Homo sapiens: one gene and its partners. The gene in region 1 interacts genetically with each later gene. Each region holds a gene or a part of one and is shown in the gene's direction. Other genes may lie near its edges. The genes, in order: SEC24C, RAB1A, NPRL3, SEC31A, UBE2J1, TRAPPC12 and CTBP1.

Region 1 (3,500 bases):
GCCACTGCACTCCATCCTGGGCGACAGAGTGAGACTTCGTCTCAGGAAAAAAAAAGTATATGGGAGGTTATATGCAAATATGATGCCGTATAACCCACATCCAATTCTATTGATTCCACCTTCAAGATGTATCCCAAATCTCACTACAGTCATTCCTCAGTATCCATGGGGGAATGGTTCCAGGACCTCCCCTGACCAACAGATACCAAAATCCACAAAGGCTCAAGTCCCTCATATAAACTCTATTCAAGTAGAGATGTTAGGTAGGCAGGTGCATATACAAATCTGCAGCTCAAGACTGATGCTAGGACTGGAGATAAAAATTTGGGAGTCCTCAGTCTATAGATATTTAAAGCCGTGGGACTAGATGAAATCATTTAAAAAGTGAGTATTGAGATTAAAGAATGGAATTGAGGACTGAGACTTGGAGCTTAGCAACATTTAAAAGTAAAGAGGAGCCGCCATTAAAAGACAATGAGGGGCCAGGTGCAGTGCCTCACTCCTGTAATCCCAGCACTTTGGGAGGCTGAGGCAGGCAGATTGCTTGAGCTCAGGAGTTCGAGACAAGCCTGGGCAACATGGTGAAACCCTGTCTCTACCAAAATACTAAAATTAGCCGGGTGTGGTGGCACATGCCTGTGGTCCCAGCTTCTTGGGAGGCTGAGGTGGGAGGATGGCTTGAAACCAAGAGGCGGAGGTTGCAGTGAGCCGAAATCGCACCGCTGCACTCCAACCTGAATGACAGAGTAAGACCCCATCTCAAACAAACAAAAAAAAAACAAAAGACAATGAGAAAGAGCAGTAGTGAGGTGGGAGATAAGCCGGGAGAGTGTGGTGTCCTGAAGTCAGGTGAAGAGAGTATTTCAAGAAGGTGAGAGAGTAATCAGTTGTGTCAGATGCTGCCAAATTGTAAGATGAAGATGGAGAATTGACCATTGAATTTGGCAAGGTTGGCGTCATTGGTAAAGGCAGTTTCAGTGTAGAGATAAAGAAAACTACCCAGTTGGAGTGAGTCAGAGTTTCAGGCCAGGCGCGGTGGCTCATGCCTGTAATTCCAGCACTTTGGGAGGCCGAGGCGGGTGGATTACAAGGTCAGGAGATCGAGACCATCCTGGCTAACACGGTGAAACCCCGTCTCTACTAAAAATACAAAAAATTAGCTGGGCGCGGTGGCAGGCTCCTATAGTCACAGCTACTTGGGGGGCTGAGGCAGGAGAATGGCGTGAACCCAGGAGGCAGAGCTTGCAGTGAGCCGAGATCTTGCCACTGCACTCCAGCCTGGGCGACAGACAGCGAGACTCCGTCTCAGGAAAAAAAAAAAGTTTCAACCGGGTGGTAGATTGACATAATCTGAAAACCCTCTGCTACCAAAGTCTAGAAAGGAGAGAGAAAATAGAAACAAAAAAAATTTTTAAGTGCAAAGTTAAGCTTGAAAGAAAATGTGAAATTCTTAAGTTTTAGAGACCAAGTGAGGACTGAAAATCTTTTTTTTTTTTTAAATACAGAGTCTTGCTCTGTCGCCCAGGCTGGAGTGCAGTGGCACGATCTCTGCTCACTGCAACCTCTACCTCCCAGGTTCAAGCGATTCCCCTGCCTCAGCCTCCCAAGTAGCTGGGACTACAGATGTGGGCCACCATGCCCGGCTAATTTTTGTATTTTTAGTAGAGATGAGGTTTCACCGTGTTGGCCAGGCTGGTCTCAAACTCCTCGCCTCAGGTGAACCGCCCACCTTGGCCTCCCAAAGTGGTGGGATTACAGGCATGGGCCACTGTGCCTGGCCATCAAGTGAGGACTGAAAATCAGAGTGGTAAATTGACTCTGGAGCTGCCTGTAGATTGGGTGGATTCATCATCTTGAGAAGCCAGGGCCTTAAATTTAAGCAGGTACTGGGGAAGGCAGATGAGTCCTTGGGCTTTCCTGAGAGTAGTTTTGGAACTGAGACATTGTTTATAAAGTCTGGACCTGGGCTGCACCTTCATTGAACAAGCTGACTAGGGGAAAAAAGTCTGCACGCTGGAAAGGGGAGATAAGGAGTGCTGTTTCTCTCAGGCTGGCTGTGGATGGGTGAAAAAAAAAGTTCTTGGGACTGCAAATGGACATGACATCTTTTTGGAATGATGAAAATGTTTTAAAATTTGATTCTGGTGATGGTTGCATAACTAAATTTACTAAAAATCATTGAATTGTTCACTTGAAGTGAATTTAATGGTATGGAAATTACATCTCAGTAATATTTTTTTTTTTTTGAGACAGAGTTTTGGTCTTATTGCCCAGGTTGGAGTGCAATAGCACGATCTCAGCTCACTGCAGCCTCTGCCTCCTGGGTTCAAGTGATTCTCCTGCCTCAGCCTCCCAAGTAGCTGGGATTCCAGGCATGACCACCATGCCAGGCTAATTTTTTGTATTTTTAGTAGAGACAGGGTTTCACCATGTTGGCCAGGCTGGTCTTGAACTGACCTCAAGTGATTCACCTGTGTTGGCCTCCCAAAGTTCTGGGATTACAGGTGTGAGTCACTGTTCCTGGCCAATTTTTTTTTTTTTTTTTTTTTTTTTTTTTGAGATGAAGTCTCGCTCTGTCACCCAGGCTGGAGTGAAGTGGTGTGACCTTGGCTCACTGCAACCTCCACCTCCCAGGTTCAAGTGAATCTCCTGTCTGAACCTCTTGAGTAGCTGGGATTACAGGTGTGCACTACCACGCCTGGGCTAATTTTTGTATTTTTTTAGTAGAGATGGAGTTTCACCATGTTGGTCAGGCTGGTCTTGAACTCCTGACCTCAAATGATCCATCTGTCTCGGCCTCCCAAAGTACTGGGATTACAGGCATGAGCCACTGCACCTGGCCTAATTTTTTTTTTTTTTAAATTAGAGGCCAGGTGCAGTGGCTCATGCCTGTAGTAATCTCAACACCTTGGGAGGCTGAGACAGGAGGATCACTTGAGGCCAGAAGTTTTAGACCAGCCTGGGCAACATAGGGAGATCCTGTCGCTATAAAAAAAAAAAAATAGCTGAGCATTGTTGGTGTGCCTGGGAAGCAGAGGTGGAGGCAGGAGGATTGCTAGAGCCCTGGAGGTTGAGGCTACAGTGAGCCATGATGGCTTCGCTGCACTGTGGCCTGGGTGCCAGAGTGAGACCCTGTCTCAAAAACTAAAAAAAAAAAAAAATCAATCTAGGGTGACACTGTCATTATTGGAGTACCTTCTGGAAACAAATGTAGAACAACCACACCTCAGTCCGGGCTGGAAGGGATTATCGGAGAAAGGCACTTTGATTAGAGTTGGGCCAGGCACAGTGCTCATGTTTGTAATCCCAGCACTTTGTGAAGCCGGGGTAGGAGTTCAAGACTATCCTGGGCAGCATAGCAAGACCCTGTCTCTACAAAAAATAAAAAAAATTAGCTAGGTGTGGTGGTGTGTGCCTGTGGTCTCAGATACTTGGGAGGGGAGGCTTAGGGGGAGGATTGCTTGAGCCCAGGAGGTCAAGGCTGCAGTGAGCCACAGATA
Region 2 (2,877 bases), on another chromosome or scaffold:
AAAAAAAAAAATCTCTTCACTCCTTAGCAGTGGTTATTTTGTAGCTAGAGTTGTCTCACTAGCTCTTTGTTATTTGTCTGTTAGGTCAGGAACGATGTTTCTGTTTATTCCAGAACTATATTATCGAACTATATTATCAGTCTTTCAAATGTCTTTTTAGGAGTCCTTCAATAATGTTAAACAGTGGCTGCAGGAAATAGATCGTTATGCCAGTGAAAATGTCAACAAATTGTTGGTAGGGAACAAATGTGATCTGACCACAAAGAAAGTAGTAGACTACACAACAGCGAAGGTATGTTTAAAGTTTAATTTTCATACTGAATTTGAAGGTGTTGAATTATGTATGGGTTCTGCAGTAACAGTAAGGCCACAGCCTTTTAAAAATATGTGCACTAGAATACTGTGACAGTGACAATTTGTGTAGCATCTGTTTGGATCCAATGAACTTAGTTCCTCACGCTCCATTATGGATGGTAGAAATGCACTAAGAATTAGTGAAAAAGATTTTTCAGTGTTAATTGTGCCTCATTATTCTCTTAGGAATTTGCTGATTCCCTTGGAATTCCGTTTTTGGAAACCAGTGCTAAGAATGCAACGAATGTAGAACAGTCTTTCATGACGATGGCAGCTGAGATTAAAAAGCGAATGGGTCCCGGAGCAACAGCTGGTGGTGCTGAGAAGTCCAATGTTAAAATTCAGAGCACTCCAGTCAAGCAGTCAGGTGGAGGTTGCTGCTAAAATTTGCCTCCATCCTTTTCTCACAGCAATGAATTTGCAATCTGAACCCAAGTGAAAAAACAAAATTGCCTGAATTGTACTGTATGTAGCTGCACTACAACAGATTCTTACCGTCTCCACAAAGGTCAGAGATTGTAAATGGTCAATACTGACTTTTTTTTTATTCCCTTGACTCAAGACAGCTAACTTCATTTTCAGAACTGTTTTAAACCTTTGTGTGCTGGTTTATAAAATAATGTGTGTAATCCTTGTTGCTTTCCTGATACCAGACTGTTTCCCGTGGTTGGTTAGAATATATTTTGTTTTGATGTTTATATTGGCATGTTTAGATGTCAGGTTTAGTCTTCTGAAGATGAAGTTCAGCCATTTTGTATCAAACAGCACAAGCAGTGTCTGTCACTTTCCATGCATAAAGTTTAGTGAGATGTTATATGTAAGATCTGATTTGCTAGTTCTTCCTTGTAGAGTTATAAATGGAAAGATTACACTATCTGATTAATAGTTTCTTCATACTCTGCATATAATTTGTGGCTGCAGAATATTGTAATTTGTTGCACACTATGTAACAAAACAACTGAAGATATGTTTAATAAATATTGTACTTATTGGAAGTAATATCAAACTGTATGGTGATAAGTATTGTTTTGATTCTTATGGTTAAAGGGAAATAGAGCCTTGCATTATATTCAACACAGCCATTTGTGTGTGCACAATGCAAACTAAGGTATTCTAGACCTATCTTAGAGCAGCATCCAGTATTTGCTTTCTAGATAATATGCCCAATAACATGACCTAGAGGGGCTTCTGTGCTGTGTAGGGATTTAACCAACTTCAGTGGTTCAGGGAGCTCAAACTATATGTAAAACAAGTTTAGAATGTATGCTATCTAGCCCGTTATCTCTGATCCTTCTCTAAAACCATTTGAAATAGCTTCATTGATCAACATTTCATAAATGCATCTGTGGTAGAGGTAGAAAGCAGCACCTTTCCTAATTGGCAAATGATCAGACTAATGTGTGCTAATGTTTTTCTTCCATGCTTTCAGTCAGATTCAACTATTTTATCCTCCACAGTTGCTTAACTTGGTGTTGGAGGAGGGTTTAAGCATTAAGATAGGAAGCAGGAAATTTGATTGCTCTAAATTTAGAAATTATATCCCTAAAAATTAAAACATGAATACTGGGTGGTAATGATAATTGAGGCAAATGTATTTATTTTGGTGACATTTTGCATATATGAAGATTTTCTGAAATAGGACCTTCAAGATCCTAGGGGGTTTTGTTTGGTTTTTAATTGTGAGGAATAAAAAATCTTCTGCCCACACTGGCATTTTAAGGTGACTGAGGTCAAACGTTGTTTCCTTAGGTTGAAATAGCAGCCAAAACATTCTTCACGCAGGGGCTTGGGATATGGCTGCTGGCAACACATTTTGTTGTGGGCTCCTTAATTTAATGATAAAATTTAAGCTAAACACAAGCCAAAAATGAATAGGTTTTTTTAATTTTTATTTTTCACTAAACAGGCAATTGAAATACATGGTACAAAAATAAGTGGTAAGATAATTGTAAAATGAAATGGACAGAATATTCAATTTTCCATCTATGAAAATTTCACAATAAAAATCATAGTTTACTTTGTATTATAGGCGTGCTTGGTGGATCTATTCATCCTCACATAAGGCAACTGACAAATTCCTGAAGTTACCAATAGTTATTTTGGTGAAGATCTTTAATGCTTCAGAAGTTTTGTTTTTGCCTTAATACAGTATAAAGGGGGAAAGAGTTCAGAAACTATTTTCTAAAGTAGCTAAATGACACAAAACAAATGTCAAGATACTGTGATGCCATGCCGTGCACTTCATTTTTACACAGTAAAAGTTGTTTAAATTGTCAGCTTATTCTTGGTGAGTTAGCGGAAACATTACATGAACTTAAGATGAGCATATTTACAGACTTAAGTTTGGAAAATTCCAGCGTTCTTTTCCCCATGGCAGTAAAGATTGGGATTTACAACAAATTTCAGCATGCCTTAAGATTTGCTTCTATGTATACGCCAATAAATGTGGTTCTGGAAAAAATATATACCCCTTTATACCCCCATTTTCAAGTACAAACGGTTCAAAGCTACTACAGGTTTTAA
Region 3 (3,500 bases), on another chromosome or scaffold:
CAGCCAGATGCTGGGTGGCCCCGGTGTGTGGTGGGAGCCTGTGCAGGTGTGATCCAGATGTTCCCCTGGCCCCTCTCCCTTCCCAGGAGGGTGAGCGGGCCTTGCAGAGCTGGCTGGCAGCTGGGGGCTCCCTTTCTGAGAAGAGGGCCTTTCTGCCTGTGCGTCAGCACAGGGAGCGTGCTGTGGCCATGTCTAGGGCCATGGCTCCCTGATCACCCAGGAGGAAGTTGGAGTGGGGAGGGGGACCAGCCTCACCTGCTGCCACCCGCAGACCCAGCTCATCCAGATGGTGGTGTGGATGCTGCAGCGCCGGCTTCTCATCCAGCTGCACACCTATGTCTGCCTGATGGCCTCACCCAGCGAGGAGGAGCCCCGTCCGCGAGAGGACGACGTCCCCTTCACTGCCCGGGTCGGCGGTCGCAGCCTCAGCACGCCCAACGCCCTCAGCTTTGGCTCCCCAAGTAGGACCCCCAGGGCACCGCTGTGGTAGTCAGGGGAGACGCTTGGGGGTGGCATCCAGGAGGCTCAACGTGGGTGGTGCTGTGAGTGATGAGGGGCCTCCACACAGCTGCACACGCACATGCACGTGCCTCGTGTCCCCCGTGGAGACACCTCTCCTGTCTCCTAGCACCACCGTGACTCTGAGGTGGCAGCTCTGTCTCCGGGCTCTTCAGCAGGCTTGCTAGAATTAGGGGCAGCTCCCAGCCCAGCAAATCAGTGCTGGAATCTCTGCCCCAGCCTGGGAGCAGAGCAGGATCTCATACCACTACCAGGACAGCTGACACCTCTGCGCCCCAGAAGAGCCGTCATGGCCAGTGTGGCTTGAGGGCAGCAGCCTGTTGCCAGGTCCCAGGTCCCCGGTCCCCAGGCTTGGGGAAGGAAGGGGGTGGAAGACTTTGAAAGTCCCCCCTTGGCTGAGGTCTGGCTGTAGGCTTCATGCTTCATGTGAGGACCCCACCTGCCCAGGGTGCTTTGTCCTCCATCCTGGGTGAGGGACAGGATGCCCAGGCCCACCTTGGGGTGTTTGTGGGGCACACATCGCACCTCTGTTCAGGTCCCTTGAGGTTGCCCCCAGAGGGGAGGCTACCCGTTTCCCAAGTCAGCCGTATGAGGGGCGTGTCACACCCAGGAGGTGGGGCAGCAGCGAATGCTTGCAGGCAGATGTACCCTAACCCTTGTAGGAGTTAGGGGTGTCATTGGAGGCTGGCTGCTGGCTCTGCCCTCGCTGTTCCCCTGGGTGTCCTGGAATTCCACTTGGTCACCCTGACCCATGTCCCCCACAGCCAGCAGCGATGACATGACCCTCACCAGCCCCAGCATGGACAACTCCAGCGCAGAGCTACTTCCCAGCGGGGACTCGCCACTGAACCAGAGGATGACGGAGAACCTGCTGGCCAGCCTGTCGGAGCATGAACGCGCAGCCATCCTCAGTGTACCCGCAGCCCAGAACCCTGAGGACCTCCGCATGTTTGCCAGGTGGGTGTAGGTTGACCCGTTGGGACTGGGGCCAGTTGCAGGGTCAGGGCAGAAAGTGGATAGGGACGTACGCAACAGAACCACCAAATCCACTGAGAACAGATGGGGCCCTGTTCGAGATGGAGTCTCTGCATTCAGGTGTGTAGGGGCAGGTGCCACTGCCCAGGCCTGAGGGTTCGGCTTGTCACCAAGACGCCGGGCCATGGGCCTGGCATGCCTATTTTTCGGACTCTTCTCTCTCCAGTACTTCTTAGATGTTCCTTTTCCCTTGAGAGGCAGTGCCAAGTTCTTTTTTTTTTTTTTTTTTTTTGAGACGGAGTCTCGCTCTGTCACCCAGGCCGGACTGCGGACTGCAGTGGCGCAATCTCGGCTCACTGCAAGCTCCGCTTCCCGGGTTCACGCCATTCTCCTGCCTCAGCCTCCTGAGTAGCTGGGACTACAGGCGCCCGCCACCACGCCCGGCTAATTTAAGTGCCAAGTTCTCACCCTCATGGGACTTGGCAGGGGTTTGCCCAGGACTGTAAGCCCTGCGGGCATCCAGGGTCCCCCATGTTAAAGGTGATGTGGCTCAGTGGTCTCTGTCAGCCCCACCCTGACTTGGGGGACAGTGCAGGGGCATAGTTTCCCGGGAGTGGTCGGGTTGTCAGGGACTGAGTTTCCGGTTGAGAACCACACTCGGCCCTCGAGAGAACCACTTGCAACTCTTCTGAGCAGCTGGTCCAGGTCTCACCTGCATCCTAGCCTCCTCTGTGCCAGCCTGAGTTGCAGAAAGCACCCTAAAGCAGTGACCTTCCAAATGATGGTGACATTAAAAAAAAAAAAAAAAAAAGTCAGGCGCGGTGGCTCATGCCTGTAATCCCAGCACTTTGGGAGGCTGAGGTGGGTGGATCACGAGGTCAGGAGATCGAGATCATCCTGGCTAACATGGTGAAACCCCGTCTCTACTAAAAAATACAAAAAATTAGCTGGGTGTGGTGGCGGGCGCCTGTAGTCCCAGCTACTGGGGAGGCTGAGGCAGGAGAATGGCCTGAAGGCGGGAGGCGGAGCTTGGCGGGAGGAGGAGAATGGCGGGAAGGCGGGAGTTGCAGTGAGCCCAGATCGCGCCACTGCACCTCCAGCCTGGGCAGCAGAGCGAGACTCCGTCTCAAAAAAAAAAAAGCAGGCTGGGCACAGTGGCTCACGGTTATAATCTCAGCACTTTGGGAGGCTGAGGTGGGTGGATCACCTGAGTTCAGGAGTTCGAGACCAGCCTGGCCAACATATAATGAAACCCTGTCTCTACTAAAAAAGAGAGAAATTAGCCAGGTGTGGTAGCGCACTCCTGTAGTCCCAGCTTACCTGGGAAGCTGACGCAGGAGAATCGCTTGAATCTGGGAGGCGGGAGGTTGCAGTGAGCTGAGATCGAGCCACTGCAATCTAGCCTGGGTGACTGAGTGAGACTCCGTCTCTCAAAAAAAGGAAAAAAAAAAGCAGTGACCATTTGGCTCCAGAGCTACGTGGGACTCACTGTAGCACGAAAAAGAAGCCACCAGCAGAACCCTGGTCCCAACATCAGGACGCAGGCTTGGGCACCTCTGGGTTTGAACAGCCGTCTGCCGTCCTGAACCCACTCCGCCCACCTGGTGGTCAGCGGGACCGTGGTGGGCATGGGGTCCAGGAGGCCTGCCCACCCTTGTTGGGGGGCTGTGGTGGCTGCCTCCCTGGCCTTCACCACCAGCTCTGTTCAGGCCTGTGGGCAGCTCAGAGCTGATTCCCAGCAGTGGCTCTTCAGCAGAGGCCTCTGGGGGCTGGTGTCAGGTTGGGCTCACACCCACCCATCCCTTCCAGGCTCCTTCACTACTTCCGCGGCCGCCACCACCTGGAGGAGATTATGTACAACGAGAACACGCGGCGCTCCCAGCTGCTCATGCTGTTTGACAAGTTCCGCAGCGTGCTGGTGGTGACCACCCACGAGGACCCTGTCATTGCCGTCTTCCAGGCTCTGCTCCCCTGAGCCCAGGCGGAGGGCGGAAGGCTGCTGGGGT
Region 4 (3,500 bases), on another chromosome or scaffold:
TTAAATATATACAGGCTTAAAAAATTATTTACACTACCCACTCTTATAAACATCCTCTCCTAGCCCTGTGCCAGAATCTCATTGCTATAGTAATTTAAGCATCTGCTCAATGGCATATGTGCAGCATTCATGAGCAAGAGAATGGAAAACATGCTTTTAACTTCTGTTTTGTATGGTTTCTCTGATCTTTTATTTTTGTGTGTATAGTTACCATAAATATATTTTCTATAGGAACATCTGCTCAGCAATTGGATGCAACATTTAGTACGAATGCTTCCCTTGAGATATTTGAATTAGACCTCTCTGATCCATCCTTGGATATGAAATCTTGTGCCACATTCTCCTCTTCTCACAGGTATGAGGTTCAGCTTTAAATTCATGTGATTATTTAATTATATATTGTTCTTGATTCCTAATTTGTCTATAATTATGCCATTATTAGAAACTACAAGGAATACCATCAAGAACATGAAATATTTTGTGAAAAAGCATGTGAGTGAATTTTTATGGAAGTAAAAGTAGTGTTTATGTGTTCTATTGACTTTTTTTTTTCTTTTTTTTTTTTGAGACAGAATCTTACTTCATAGCTCAGGCTGGAGTGCAGTGGCACGATCTCGGCTCACTGCAACCTCCACCTTCCAGGCTCAAGCAATTCTTGTGCCTCAGCCTCCCGAGTAGCTGGGATTACAGGTGCACACCACCTTGCCCAGCTAATTTTGTGTCTTTAGTAGCGACAGGGTTTTGCCATGTTGGCCAGGCTGGTTTTGAACTCTTGACCTCAAGCAATCCACCCACCTTAGCCTCCCAAAGTGCTGAGATTATAGGCATGAGGAATCACGCTTGGCCAGTATGTTCTGTTGGCTTTTTTATTGCTGTTACATGTAAGGTAGGAAGGAGAGGCTGTAGTTTCTAGCATTTTTTTCTGTTTTTTTGGTGTGTGTGTGGTTTTTTTTGTTTTTGTTTTTTTTTTGAGATGGAGTTTCACTCTTGTTGCCCAGGCTGGAGTGCAATGGCGCAATCTCGGCTCACCACAACCTCTGCCTCCTAGGTTCTAGCAATTCTCCTGCCTCAGCCTCCCGAGTAGCTGGGATTACAGGCATGTGCCACCATGCCTGGCTAATTTTGTATAGAGTTCTTTTTTCTATCTCCTTTATTGTGCCTGTTTACAAAAAGGTAGATGTGACTAGAAAAGGAGTAGTCATCGTAAGTATTAATAGTGATTATCTCTGAATGGTAGCTTATTTTTATTTTCTTCTGTTACGATATTTAGAAATATATCTCACAGTTTTGTTGACACGATTTCTAATACACTAGGTAACTAGGTATTTGGATCATACTTTCAAGTACTTATGCCCTATTGTAATGCAGAGAAAGGAGGTCTTCATTTCAGTAATAAAATAAGCTTTATTGCCTCAATATATTAGCAGGGTTTAAAGAGATTGCTCTTTAGCTGACAGAATATAGCTCAAATCATGCAGTTTCATGGGACCGCTCATATTCTTCAGAGCTGTCACAGTGGGATGGGAACCCCAGATACCTTTTGTCTAGTAGTTTTTCTGCTTACTACCATCTGTATCATCGTATACCTTTCTGCCTTCATATTTCATCTCCATTCTGGACCATATATTTTATTCTCTAATAGTAGGGGTACTTGTTATAATCTTGATGTCATTTTTCTACCATTAGAATACATTCTTTTTCTTAGAAAATTTCACATGACTCCTTTAACACCTTTACTATTTAACAGACCACTTGTTAGTGACCCCCCCTTTTTTTTTTTTTCAGACAAAGGTCAAAGCATGAGACCCTTCTATAGTCAAATAAAGAGTGTTTTTACCTTTCGAGGGAAGTGATTGATTAGCTCTATTTTACAATGAACCAGAGGCAATTTAAGAAGATTAAGTAACTTAGGGTCTCACAGTTTCTAAATGGTAAAATCATTCTTAAGCTCATATTTTTTGACACACAACTCAAGTATATTTTGTTACACTACCTTACAAGAGTTTTTACTCTTTAAGGATTACAAAATCACATATGCAAATATGAGTATAAATAAAAAATGAAATACTATTACACCAAAGTCATACATAGTTACCAGGAGTGGTGGGAAAGTAATATATTTGGATTGTTTATGAAAACATTAAAAATTAAGTGTATAATTTCAATTTTTTGTCTACATTTATTTGACTTTAAGAATGAATGATTTTATTCATTTTCTCCTGTAGGTACCACAAGTTGATTTGGGGGCCTTATAAAATGGATTCCAAAGGAGATGTCTCTGGAGTTCTGATTGCAGGTGGTGAAAATGGAAATATTATTCTCTATGATCCTTCTAAAATTATAGCTGGAGACAAGGAAGTTGTGATTGCCCAGAATGACAAGCATACTGGCCCAGTGAGAGCCTTGGATGTGAACATTTTCCAGGTTAAGACTTTAACATTTCATAATTCTTAGACTATGTGCTGCTCATTTGAAATCAGTATATGAATCTACTATGCCTCAGTTTTGGAATTGAAAGTTAAAAAACTGTGGCTATACAGGTTGACGAGTGTTTGTTTAAAGAATGGTGGGTTCAGAGTTGAGATCAGGGTTAAAAATACTACCTCCATGAAAAGGATCCGGCTGATAGGTTTTTGTTTTTGTTTTTGTTTTTGTTTTTTTGAGACGGAGTCTCGCTCTGTCACCAGGCTGGAGTGCAGTGGCATGATCTTGGCTCACTGCAACCTCTGCCTCCTGGGTTCAAGTGATTCTCCTGCCTCAGCCTCCCGAGTAGCTGGGATTACAGGCGCCTGCCACCACGCCCAGCTAATTTTTGTACTTTTAGTAGAGATGGGGTTTCACCATGTTGGCCAGAATGGTCTCGATCTCTTGACCTTGTGATCCGCCCGCCTCGGCCTCCCAAAGTGCTGGGATTACAGACGTGAGCCACTGTGCCCAGCTGGCTAATAGGTTTAAGTCTGAAGATGTCACGCCATTTGATTAGACATTTTATAAACATTAAGATCCCTATAGGTTGGAAACCTTGCCTTTTAAAAGTTCATGCTAGGTCAGCATTAGGCTGGTGCTGTGATGTCCAGGTTAATTCACTGTTTTATTAATTGAGAAATTTTATGTTTATGACAGAGATTAATACTCTATGAAATAATTAGAAATTAAATGTAATGGCTGGGCATGTGGCTCACACCTGTGTAATCCCAGCACTTTGAGAGGCCGAGGCAGACAGATCATGAGGTCAGGAGTTCGAGACCAGCCTGGCCAACGTGGTGAAACCCCGTCTCTACTAAAAATACAAAAATTAGCCGGGCATGGTGGCAGGCACCTGTAATCCCAGCTATTCGGGAGTCTGAGGCAGGAGAATCGCTTGAACCCGGGAGGCGGAGATCGCAGTGAGTTGAGATCGTGCCATTGCACTCCAGCCTGGGCAACGAGCAAAACTCAAAAAAAGAAAAAAGAAATGTAATGCAGATTTAACAAATAGTCAATTAAGATTCTTTGTACTG
Region 5 (3,500 bases), on another chromosome or scaffold:
AAAGAATATTAATAATTGTGAAGTAGGATAGTAACAACTTTTTTTTGGCCAGGCATGCTGATTCCCGCCTGTAATCTCAGCACTTTGGAAGGCTGAGGTAGGAGGATTGCCCGAGACCAGCCTGGGCAAGACAGGGGGACCCCAGCTCTACAAAAAATTTAAAAATTAGCCAGGCATGGTGGTGCATGCCTGTGGTCTCAGCTATTGGGGAGGCCAAGGTGGGAGGACTGCATGAGCTTGGGAGGTTGAGGCTTCAGTGAGTGAGCTGTGTTCGTACCACTGCCCTCCGGCCTGGAGGGCTTTTTTTTTTTTTTTTAGACGTAGTTTCGCTCTTGTTGCCCAGGCTGGAGTGCAACAGCACGATCTCAGCTCACTGCAGCCTCCACTTCCTGGGTTTAAGCGATTCTCCTGCCTCAGCCTCCCTAGTAGCTGGGATTATAGGCATGTGCCATCACACCAGGCTAATTTTGTATTTTTAGTAGAGATGGGGTTTCACTATGCTGGTCAGGCTGGTTTCAAACTCCTGACCTCAGGTGATCCACCTGCCTCGGCCTCCCAAAGTGCTGGGATTACAGGCCTAAGCCACCGTGCCTGGTTTTGTTTGTTTGTTTGTTTGTTTTATTGAGATAGTCTCTCTCTGAAGCCCAGGCTGGAGTGCAATGGCACGACCTCAGCTCACTGCAACCTCCACCTCCTGGGTGCAAGCGATTCTCCTGCCTCAGCCTCCCGAGTAGCTGGGATTACAGGCGTCCGCCACCATGCCTGGCTAATTTTTGTATTTTTAGTAGAGACAGGGTTTCACCATGTTGGCCAGGCTAGTCTCGAACTCTTGACCTCAGGTGATCCACTCGCCTCGGTCTCCCAAAGTGCTAGGATTACAGGCATGAGCCACCACGCCTGGCCTCAAATGCAATTTTATGCAAAAGTCTTGATACATACCAAACCATTGTGGTTATATACATGTAGGGGTTCCTTCTCAGTTAATCTCTCTCCCCATAACATTCCAACCTGTGCCTCTACACATTTTACTTTTATTATTACCTCTTCCTATTCATATCTACCTGGGGAGTTTCTACTGTTATTTCTTTCACATTCAGTACCTGACTCCTTTTCTCTTCCATTTGCTCTAAAGTTAGATGCCCAGCCTGTCCTCCCAGCATCTGGTGCATACCTCTCTTTTGAGCTACATCAGTGGTTGCAAACCCAGTTTTGAGAAGCCTTTTCCCTAACTCAGCCATCCCACTGCAGTATCCTGACATGTTTTAGCACCAAAAGCTTGAAATGAGAGGGGTTGGGATCCAGAGTGCATATCAAAGGATTGAATTTTGAGAGCCAATAGAAGACAGAGGGTGCAGATACAGATAGGATTGTAGATTGTGATAGGCATCTGAGCAGCTCCTGCTAGCAGTCATTCATCAGGGAGATAAAAAGCTGGGTGCCATTAACTGAAAGAGAGGAGAAATTAGACTAGGTGGGAAATAATCTTGGAGTGCTAGGTGGAAAGAGTAGGCTGGAAGGCCTACTAGAGAAATGTGGGGACATTAGGTGGCATTGTATCCCAGTAGAGGTTGTTGGTAATGACTTGTAATGGCATTACTGCACCATCCTCTCTGACTTTTTTTCCTCCTTTCAGTGATGCTCAGCTGTTTGGGTATAGACAGCAAATAAGATGGTTGGGTTGGGTCAGGCACAGTTGGATTTTATTAAGGGAGTGTACAAGAGGGACTCCTAAGAGCCAAGGGTGTGGATAAAGAGGAAAATGAATATAAGTATAGGAGGGGTGAAGAAAGTTGTGGGGTCAGTGGACTGGAGGTTTTAGTGAAGCTGAAGGATCATTTCAAGAAGGAATTTCATCGGGGCTTTGGAGAGTCAGTGAATTCAGGGGACAGTCCATTCATTTAATGCAAGATAGTGGATGGAAAGTCCCAAGAGTTGGAGGATATAGAGGTGTTTCCTGTTCACCGAGCATGAGATCCAGAGAATACATTTTTTGTTAATAAAGACATTTTAACAGGTAGAGCCAAATTGCCTGTGTTGGAATCCCATCTCTGTCATTTACTAGCTGTGTGACTATATAATCTCTCCGTGTCTCGGCTTCTTCATCTGGAAAATGGGGATAAAAATAATACCTATCTAGTAATGTTGTATTAAGGGTTAAATGAGTTATTAATGTCTGTAAAAGCACTTCAATAAATACCACCATATAGGAAGTATATATAAGTACTTATTAAATAAAAATAGTGTCTTCACTATATATTTAATATATAACTCTTTTAAAGTGTTAATGCCTAGCAACTGTTTCCTTCCTCTCCCCCTCTATTTATTCCCATAATCTTATAATTAAACCTTTGCCATATGCTCATTTGCACTAGTTCTCTACACATTTTTTCATTAGGCTCGTAAGACTGTGCTAATCATTCAGAAAAGTATATTTTAAATATCTCTATTTTATGAATTTTATTTTAGCTGTTAAACGTTTAATGAAAGAAGCGGCAGAATTGAAAGATCCAACAGATCATTACCATGCGCAGCCTTTAGAGGTTAGTTTCTATCTCCATGTTCTTCATATGGATTTTAATATTTAAAACAAATTTTTTAAAATTGCTTTTCATTGCTTTGAGTCATTACAGATGTGTGTGATGTAGTTTGACGTTTTATTCACCATATTTCATGAATATTTCATTAGCCATTCCAAATCACTTTAGAAGAAACGGATTTTGTGGTCTTTATAAAATGGGTCTCAGATGCTAAGTTGAGGTTAGATCTTTTTTTTTTTTTTTTTTTTTTTGAGGCGGAGTCTCACTGTGTTGCCCAGGCTGGAGTGCAGTGATGTGATCTCGGCTCACTGCAACCTCTACCTCCCAGGTTCAAGCAATTCTCCTGCCTCAGCCTCCTGAATAGCTGGGATTACAGGCCCCCACCACCACGCCCGGCTAATTTTTGTATTTTTAGTAGAGACAGGGTTTCACCATGTTGGTCAGGCTGGTCTCAAACTCCTGACCTCGTGATCCACCCGCCTTGGCCTCCCAAAGTGCTGGGATTACAGGCGTGAGCCACTGCACCCGGCCGAGGTTAGATCTTGAGTCTGAGGGAGGGGAGGTGGAAAGAACCCCAGATACTTTACAGTTTGGAAGCCTTTTGATGGGTCTCCGTAGCTACTCAAGGCTTTTTGTATAAACATCTCGGCCTCTCTCAGTCTTCTCATTTGTAAAAGGAGGGTATTTAAATATACCCAGGCAGGTTTTCATGGTAACAGTGGGAATAAAAATATCATAACTTAAGTGCAAGTATTTTGTAAACTGAAAAGTACATGGTAACTGTAAGATGACATTAAATACATTAGTATTACCATTTTATAAATAAGCTCTTAGGCATCTATAAGGGATAATTTTTAAAGATTTGTTAAAATAACCCAAACATAGTAATTTTTTGATTATATAATTATCATAATTTGCTATTCTTTCAAGGATTAATTTCCAATTTAAACCTGTAAGTTACTT
Region 6 (3,186 bases), on another chromosome or scaffold:
CTCCTGGCCTCAAGCAATCCTCCTGCCTCTGCCTCCCAAAGTGCTGGGATTACAGGCATGAGCCACTGGGCCCAGCTGAAATGAGTTTTCTGTATCAATTGCAGACCTATGCTTCTGTGACTAAAGTTGATCAGTGGTAAATATGAAAAGAACTGGGTTTTCTAGCTGACTACAGATTTAATATCATCTAGCAACCTATGTGGCTGTTAACATAGCTGTTCTGTCTTTGGATGGTTTAAAATCATCTGACTCCCACACCACAGAGAAGAATCATTCTTGCCTTCCTCTCCAGTCAACAGCTCACAGCCATGGACTGCAGGACACTCCGCCTTGAGAACACTTTAAAATGGCCATTGCCCATCTGTAATGGCTTCCGTGCCACCAAGGTGATGAGGAATCCCAAAACTGTGACAGAGAAGCAGGTGAAGGAGCTGAGAACTGGAGCTCTCCCCCACCCCTCAGTGCCTGTATTAGTTGGGGCTCTCTAGAGGGACAGGACTCATAGAATAGATGAATCTATGAAGGGGAGTTTATTAGGAGAATTGACTCTCGATCACAAGGTGAGGTCCCACAATAGCTGAGGAGCAAGGAAGCCAGTCCAAGTCCCAGAACCTCGGCAAGTCTGCTCTTTCCAACTTCTGCCTGCTTTATTCTGGCTGTGATGGCAGCTGAAGAGATGGTGCCTACCCAGATTAAGGGCGGGTCGGCCTCCCCCAGCCCACTGACTCAAGTGTTCATCTCCTTTGGCAACACCCTCACAGACACACCCAGGATCAATACTTTGCATCCTTCAATTAAATTGACACTCAGTATTAACCTTGACAGCGCCCAAGGAGGGGAGGGCCAGACCCAGCGCACAGTTCCAGTTTCTGCCACGGAAACACTGACCATGTGTTGCTCTTAAGGTCGGAGCTCCAGGGCGGCGTTTCCCCGGGTTTCTGCGTTTATAAGTGATGTTAGTATCTGGTTTGCGTGTGCACAGGTGACATCTCAAAAGGATATGGTGGCTGTTTTCTGTCTTCATATAAGTTAGAAGCTTGCTTTCTCTCTCTCTGGAAAACTTGAGTAATGTGGAATGATCTATTCCCTGAAGGTTTGAGTATTCACCTAAGAATTGCCTTTGCTGAGCACATGAGGTGTGCTGTGTGCTTTTCCTAATTTATTATTATGAATCTGCCTTAGTGTTGTGTGCCTGAGGATTTTTCTGTGTTTCTGGGAACCATTTTGGTAACTGAGAGTTTTCTAGAAAGCCACCTGTTTGGTCCCTGTTTTCTCGTGGATTCGCACAGAGTAAAAGACAGTGCTCTTACCATTATTTCCATTTCCTTGTTCTGCCTGTAGCTATTTCTACTTTTACATTTCTGTTTATGCTTCCTTTTTCTGGATTAGTTTATACACTGTTTTTTGTCTTTTTCTTTGTGAGACAGGATCTTGCTCTGTCTGCCAGGCTGGAGTGCAGTGGCACAGGTATGATTCACTGCAGAACTCCTGGGCTCAAGAGATTCACCTGCCTTAGCCTCTCATGTAGCTGGGGACCACAGTGCTTACGGCCACACCTGGTGCTTACAGCCACACCTGGCTAATTTTCTTTTCTTTTTTAATGGAGACAAGGTCTCACTTTGTTGCCCGGTCTGGTCTTGAACTCCTGAAATTCAGCGATCCTCCCACCTCGGCCTCCCAAAGGGCTGAGATTACAGGTGTGAGCCACCATGCCCAGCCACTGTATTTCCTTTTTAATAGTGTCTTTTACTGATTTGTTTTCTACATATTCTGGAATACTTTTAATTGCATTTTTATGTTTAATTTTTTCAGTTGCTCCTAACTTTTAGAAATCGGTAGGATTTTGTATCCTAATTACATTTTAATAATTCTGAAAATGTCAAGTTACTTTCTAATCATCAGGAAAGTCAGTGGGTAGCAAAGAATATCCCAAGATTTCTCTGTTATCTTCCTCTGAGACATTGAGTAAAGTCCCATGCCAGCCTCAGGAGGCCTTGCAGTGCGGAGGATCAGCACACGGTCTGGGCGTTGGACAGCCTGGGTGTTGACCACAGTGTTCTGTGTTAGCTGTGTGACCTCAGAAAATTGTCTCATCTTTCCAAGCCCGACGACTTCATCTAGAAAGCGAAGCTAGCGACAGCATCTGCATCCCAGGCTGTCGCGAGGGTCAGGCGAGCTGTGCTTGTAAGCGCTTGCCACGGCCGCCGGCACACGTTAATCTTGATCGGTCTTGATGATGGGCTGTAATCATCTTCAGTTCAGTGTCTCACACGGTCCTGTTAGACAGGAGATGCAGGCGTTCGAGCTGAGGGCCGCGTCACGGAGCCCATGCTGCCTTCGGTTTCTTTTTAGTCCGCAAGTGGGAAATCGATAGTAGTGGACTTCAAACGGCTTCGGACTGTGCAGACGACGGGCAGCGATGGACAGATGCCATTCAGTGTGTGGTGTGTGTGCACGCCTGTGTTTTCTCTTGTTTCATTCTGTTTTTTCTTCCTCCTCGTATGGTATTTCTTTTGTGGGATAACAGCAACAGTTGTGAAGGGCCTGAGATGTTATCCTGTTTCCAAGCTGTGGAGTTAGCTGCCACTTTCATGGATGCTGGCAAAAAATGTAAGATTCCTACGTTAGAGAGGAAGGCTATTTATTACACAGCAACAGCAGTACAGCCAGAGTGGCATTCTTCCCACCAGCCACGGGGCCCTGATTCCTCAGGGTCTTCACCGAGGGCCTCATGAGGCCTGCAGTGGGCTGTGTGGCTGGAGAGGAATCCTGAACTTAGAACACCCAAATCCTTGCTACTGGGAGGCGAGCCTGCCTGCCCTTTGCCCCAGAGGGATGCAGTTTAGCTTACAAGGCTGTCCTCTAAACAGGCATCCTTGTGTAAATGCTTTGAACAAAGCCTTGTCACTGTCTGTGCTTGGAAGACATGCAGAAACATGACACCCATGGAGAACCATCTCCCCACCAGTCATCTGAGAAGTTAGCAGGCTTGTTTTAATGCTGGACAGATGCTTGGCGTGGACAGTCTAAGAGTTAACTAGGCTGCTCAGTATGATAGTGATGGGTGCCCCAGCCCTCCTCATGGAGGTGAGCCGCGCGCATTCAGCTTGTTTCTCATCGAGACAGAGGACAGCATTCTGTTAAGTTTCTGCTGCTGCCATGATAACAGAGCTCGCTGTCACATTC
Region 7 (3,500 bases), on another chromosome or scaffold:
AGGCCTTCAGTCCTAGCGCCGTGGTGAGCCCAGGGTGGGGCTGGGAAGGGGCTAGGGAGCTGGGCCTTCCCAACGGCGTGCGTGACCACCTTGCTTCCCTGGCTGCCCGCCCTGTGCGGATCCCTGACTGGGCCTGGCCTGTCCTTATGTCTTCTAGATGAGACAAGGGGCCTTCCTGGTGAACACAGCCCGGGGTGGCCTGGTGGATGAGAAGGCGCTGGCCCAGGCCCTGAAGGAGGGCCGGATCCGCGGCGCGGCCCTGGATGTGCACGAGTCGGAACCCTTCAGGTGCCCCCACGGCCAGTGCCGCCCCCCTGCTCTTCCCTGTCCACCATCCTGCCGGCCTTGACCTCCAGACGGCGCCTCTGCCAGGCCGGACACTTGCCTGTACTCAGGCCTCTCGCTGGCCAGCAGTGGGGGAGTTTGCCGCCCGCTGCGGGGTGAGGATGGAGCCACGGGCTCTAGGCCTGCCTTGCCTCGGTCCTGTGAGGGGCTGCTCAACCTCCTCAGCCCTTCTTTGGGCAGGGCTCCTGACCAACCAGGAGAGAGTGAGGCCCCAGTGTCTGTGAGTGGTCCCCATGGGCCCTGGCCATGGAGTCATGGCATCCCGTCCAGACCTGCAGCCCCTACAGCACCTTGGGACCCCAGGCAGCCCTGGGTTGGATGTTCAGCCGCAAGAGGAGACACCCCCACAGGGGCAGTATCAGCCTGCAGCTCCTGGGGCTACAGACCCTTTGGCTGGAAGGGGCCAGGCAGCATGTCCCCCCATCAGGGCTCCTCCCACGAGGGACTTGGAGATTAAATCCCTTGGGCTCCCACACCCGCCGCTGTCAGGAGCCCCTGGTGTGTCTGATGGTCCCGGGGCTGTGCTCTTGAGCTCAGCCAGCCTGCCGAGCAGAGCAGGGCCGTGGGGTCTGTGGTTCCCAGGCAGGGCCCCCCACAGGGGGTTCCAGTGCCCAGCCACCTCCCCTCCGTACCCAGCCACAGCACTCAGGCTGCACTGACCATGCCTGTGCTGTTCCCAGCTTTAGCCAGGGCCCTCTGAAGGATGCACCCAACCTCATCTGCACCCCCCATGCTGCATGGTACAGCGAGCAGGCATCCATCGAGATGCGAGAGGAGGCGGCACGGGAGATCCGCAGAGCCATCACAGGTGGGCGTGGGGGCCGCTCGGTCAGGCCTGGGGGTCCCTTCCTGCCAGCCCCAGATGCTCATGGGCTCGCATCCGCCTGGCAGCCAGGCCCATGTTCTGCCAGCTCAGGGCCCGTGGTGCTCTCACTGCACCCCCAGCAGGGACCTCTAAGGCCAAAGTCAAGTTGAGCCCTGGCGTCGTGTCTTACACACAGGACCTGCTGGGAAGTTGCTGGGCTGAGCAGACAGGTCCCTCAGCAAGCTGGGCACGTGCTCTGGGCTGGGGGTCCCCACGCTGCAAGGGTGCCAGTGCCCAGAGAGACAGGACCCTGCCGTGCCTTGGGAGCCCCGGGGCTGAGAGGGAGGAGCACACTGCCAAGAATCCTGCTGCCCGTGTCTTCAACCCAGTGGGCCACGCTCCTGGGGCCCCCTCAGAGCCACAGCTGTTCCTTCCTCCTGCATCTCCCAGGCCGGATCCCAGACAGCCTGAAGAACTGTGTCAACAAGGACCATCTGACAGCCGCCACCCACTGGGCCAGCATGGACCCCGCCGTCGTGCACCCTGAGCTCAATGGGGCTGCCTATAGGTGAGCAGGCCCGCTGGCCCAGAACAGCCTCCAGGAGGGCCCCAGGCTTCCCCTGGATCCCAGCACAGCCCCTGGTGGGAGGGGCGGCGTCTCCACTGACTGACCTGGAGGATCTGGGTAGAATTGGTAAGGCCAACCTCACCTGAAAGGCCCATGAGAACCAGGGCCTCTTGGAAGGAGCCTGGGCTGGGGTGGCCTTCAGGGCTCAGTGGACACAGGAGTGCCATGGGCACGGGGCCTGTGGGAGGAGGGGGCTTTGGGTGAGGCGAAGACCTCATGTTCAAGTCACCTGGAGACACCAGGGCTCCCCTCCCCAGCCCTGAGAAGTAGCTGCCATAGGCAGGAACATCCGTGTAAAGGCCGGGATCCTTACCCTGACTGCTGGTCCTCCTGGAGAGGCCCCCTCGGTGCTGCCGATGCTAGGAGGGCAGGTGGGGCCTGGCCAGGCCGCCTACAGGTGGGCCTCACGGATGGACCCTCTCCCAGCAGGTACCCTCCGGGCGTGGTGGGCGTGGCCCCCACTGGCATCCCAGCTGCTGTGGAAGGTATCGTCCCCAGCGCCATGTCCCTGTCCCACGGCCTGCCCCCTGTGGCCCACCCGCCCCACGCCCCTTCTCCTGGCCAAACCGTCAAGCCCGAGGCGGATAGAGACCACGCCAGTGACCAGTTGTAGCCCGGGAGGAGCTCTCCAGCCTCGGCGCCTGGGCAGAGGGCCCGGAAACCCTCGGACCAGAGTGTGTGGAGGAGGCATCTGTGTGGTGGCCCTGGCACTGCAGAGACTGGTCCGGGCTGTCAGGAGGCGGGAGGGGGCAGCGCTGGGCCTCGTGTCGCTTGTCGTCGTCCGTCCTGTGGGCGCTCTGCCCTGTGTCCTTCGCGTTCCTCGTTAAGCAGAAGAAGTCAGTAGTTATTCTCCCATGAACGTTCTTGTCTGTGTACAGTTTTTAGAACATTACAAAGGATCTGTTTGCTTAGCTGTCAACAAAAAGAAAACCTGAAGGAGCATTTGGAAGTCAATTTGAGGTTTTTTTTTTTGTTTTTTTTTTTTTTGTATGTTGGAACGTGCCCCAGAATGAGGCAGTTGGCAAACTTCTCAGGACAATGAATCCTTCCCGTTTTTCTTTTTATGCCACACAGTGCATTGTTTTTTCTACCTGCTTGTCTTATTTTTAGAATAATTTAGAAAAACAAAACAAAGGCTGTTTTTCCTAATTTTGGCATGAACCCCCCCTTGTTCCAAATGAAGACGGCATCACGAAGCAGCTCCAAAAGGAAAAGCTTGGGCGGTGCCCAGCGTGCCCGCTGCCCATCGACGTCTGTCCTGGGGACGTGGAGGGTGGCAGCGTCCCCGCCTGCACCAGTGCCGTCCTGCTGATGTGGTAGGCTAGCAATATTTTGGTTAAAATCATGTTTGTGACTGTAACCATTTGTATGAATTATTTTAAAGAAATAAAAATCCTGGAAAGAGCCAGCGTGCCCAGCATCTATTCTGGTGACTTTCTCTCATGAGGACACGGGTGAGCCTCAGTCCTGGCTCTGGTGACCTCCACGGCTCAGCTCAGCCTCTCTGAAGTGGGCGGCCTAAGAGAGACCCAGAGACAGTGCAGTGGCAGGTTGGGCAGTGGTCTCTGTGTGTACCGGGCCTGTCCCTCTGCCCACTGGGTCTGTGGGACGCTGTAGGGTCCTGGCTTGGAGGCGGCCTGCCCGCAGTGCCCCAGTGGGAGGGAAGCAGTGTGCCAGCCGGGCCGTTGTGTGGATGATGGTGTGACTGGCTGAGGTCCTGCC

The links.
Region 2: changes in SEC24C (region 1) and RAB1A together harm fitness less than expected from each alone (positive genetic interaction), as found in Homo sapiens cells (one large-scale study listed by BioGRID).
Region 3: changes in SEC24C (region 1) and NPRL3 together harm fitness less than expected from each alone (positive genetic interaction), as found in Homo sapiens cells (one large-scale study listed by BioGRID).
Region 4: changes in SEC24C (region 1) and SEC31A together harm fitness less than expected from each alone (positive genetic interaction), as found in Homo sapiens cells (one large-scale study listed by BioGRID).
Region 5: changes in SEC24C (region 1) and UBE2J1 together harm fitness less than expected from each alone (positive genetic interaction), as found in Homo sapiens cells (one large-scale study listed by BioGRID).
Region 6: changes in SEC24C (region 1) and TRAPPC12 together harm fitness less than expected from each alone (positive genetic interaction), as found in Homo sapiens cells (one large-scale study listed by BioGRID).
Region 7: changes in SEC24C (region 1) and CTBP1 together harm fitness less than expected from each alone (positive genetic interaction), as found in Homo sapiens cells (one large-scale study listed by BioGRID).

What each region holds. Positions count from the first base shown.
Region 1 is NC_000010.11:73,754,372-73,757,871, forward strand, and holds part of SEC24C (protein transport protein Sec24C), read left to right. Parts: intron 1-3,500. UniProt on the Homo sapiens protein: Component of the coat protein complex II (COPII) which promotes the formation of transport vesicles from the endoplasmic reticulum (ER).
Region 2 is NC_000002.12:65,086,354-65,089,230, reverse strand, and holds the end of RAB1A (ras-related protein Rab-1A), read left to right. Parts: intron 1-160; coding exon 161-292; intron 293-540; coding exon 541-738; 3' UTR 739-2,377; downstream 2,378-2,877. UniProt on the Homo sapiens protein: The small GTPases Rab are key regulators of intracellular membrane trafficking, from the formation of transport vesicles to their fusion with membranes.
Region 3 is NC_000016.10:86,674-90,173, reverse strand, and holds part of NPRL3 (GATOR1 complex protein NPRL3), read left to right. Parts: intron 1-271; coding exon 272-461; intron 462-1,283; coding exon 1,284-1,476; intron 1,477-3,303; coding exon 3,304-3,469; 3' UTR 3,470-3,500. UniProt on the Homo sapiens protein: As a component of the GATOR1 complex functions as an inhibitor of the amino acid-sensing branch of the mTORC1 pathway.
Region 4 is NC_000004.12:82,877,654-82,881,153, reverse strand, and holds part of SEC31A (protein transport protein Sec31A), read left to right. Parts: intron 1-231; coding exon 232-355; intron 356-2,225; coding exon 2,226-2,424; intron 2,425-3,500. UniProt on the Homo sapiens protein: Component of the coat protein complex II (COPII) which promotes the formation of transport vesicles from the endoplasmic reticulum (ER).
Region 5 is NC_000006.12:89,342,723-89,346,222, reverse strand, and holds part of UBE2J1 (ubiquitin-conjugating enzyme E2 J1), read left to right. Parts: intron 1-2,466; coding exon 2,467-2,540; intron 2,541-3,500. UniProt on the Homo sapiens protein: Catalyzes the covalent attachment of ubiquitin to other proteins. Functions in the selective degradation of misfolded membrane proteins from the endoplasmic reticulum (ERAD) and is essential for cells to recover from ER stress.
Region 6 is NC_000002.12:3,473,694-3,476,879, forward strand, and holds part of TRAPPC12 (trafficking protein particle complex subunit 12), read left to right. Parts: intron 1-3,186. UniProt on the Homo sapiens protein: Component of the TRAPP complex, which is involved in endoplasmic reticulum to Golgi apparatus trafficking at a very early stage.
Region 7 is NC_000004.12:1,211,131-1,214,630, reverse strand, and holds the end of CTBP1 (C-terminal-binding protein 1), read left to right. Parts: intron 1-157; coding exon 158-288; intron 289-1,025; coding exon 1,026-1,153; intron 1,154-1,600; coding exon 1,601-1,718; intron 1,719-1,860; exon of another isoform or gene 1,861-1,956; intron 1,957-2,091; exon of another isoform or gene 2,092-2,204; coding exon of another isoform or gene 2,205-2,207; coding exon 2,208-2,391; 3' UTR 2,392-3,186; downstream 3,187-3,500. UniProt on the Homo sapiens protein: Corepressor targeting diverse transcription regulators such as GLIS2 or BCL6. Has dehydrogenase activity. Involved in controlling the equilibrium between tubular and stacked structures in the Golgi complex.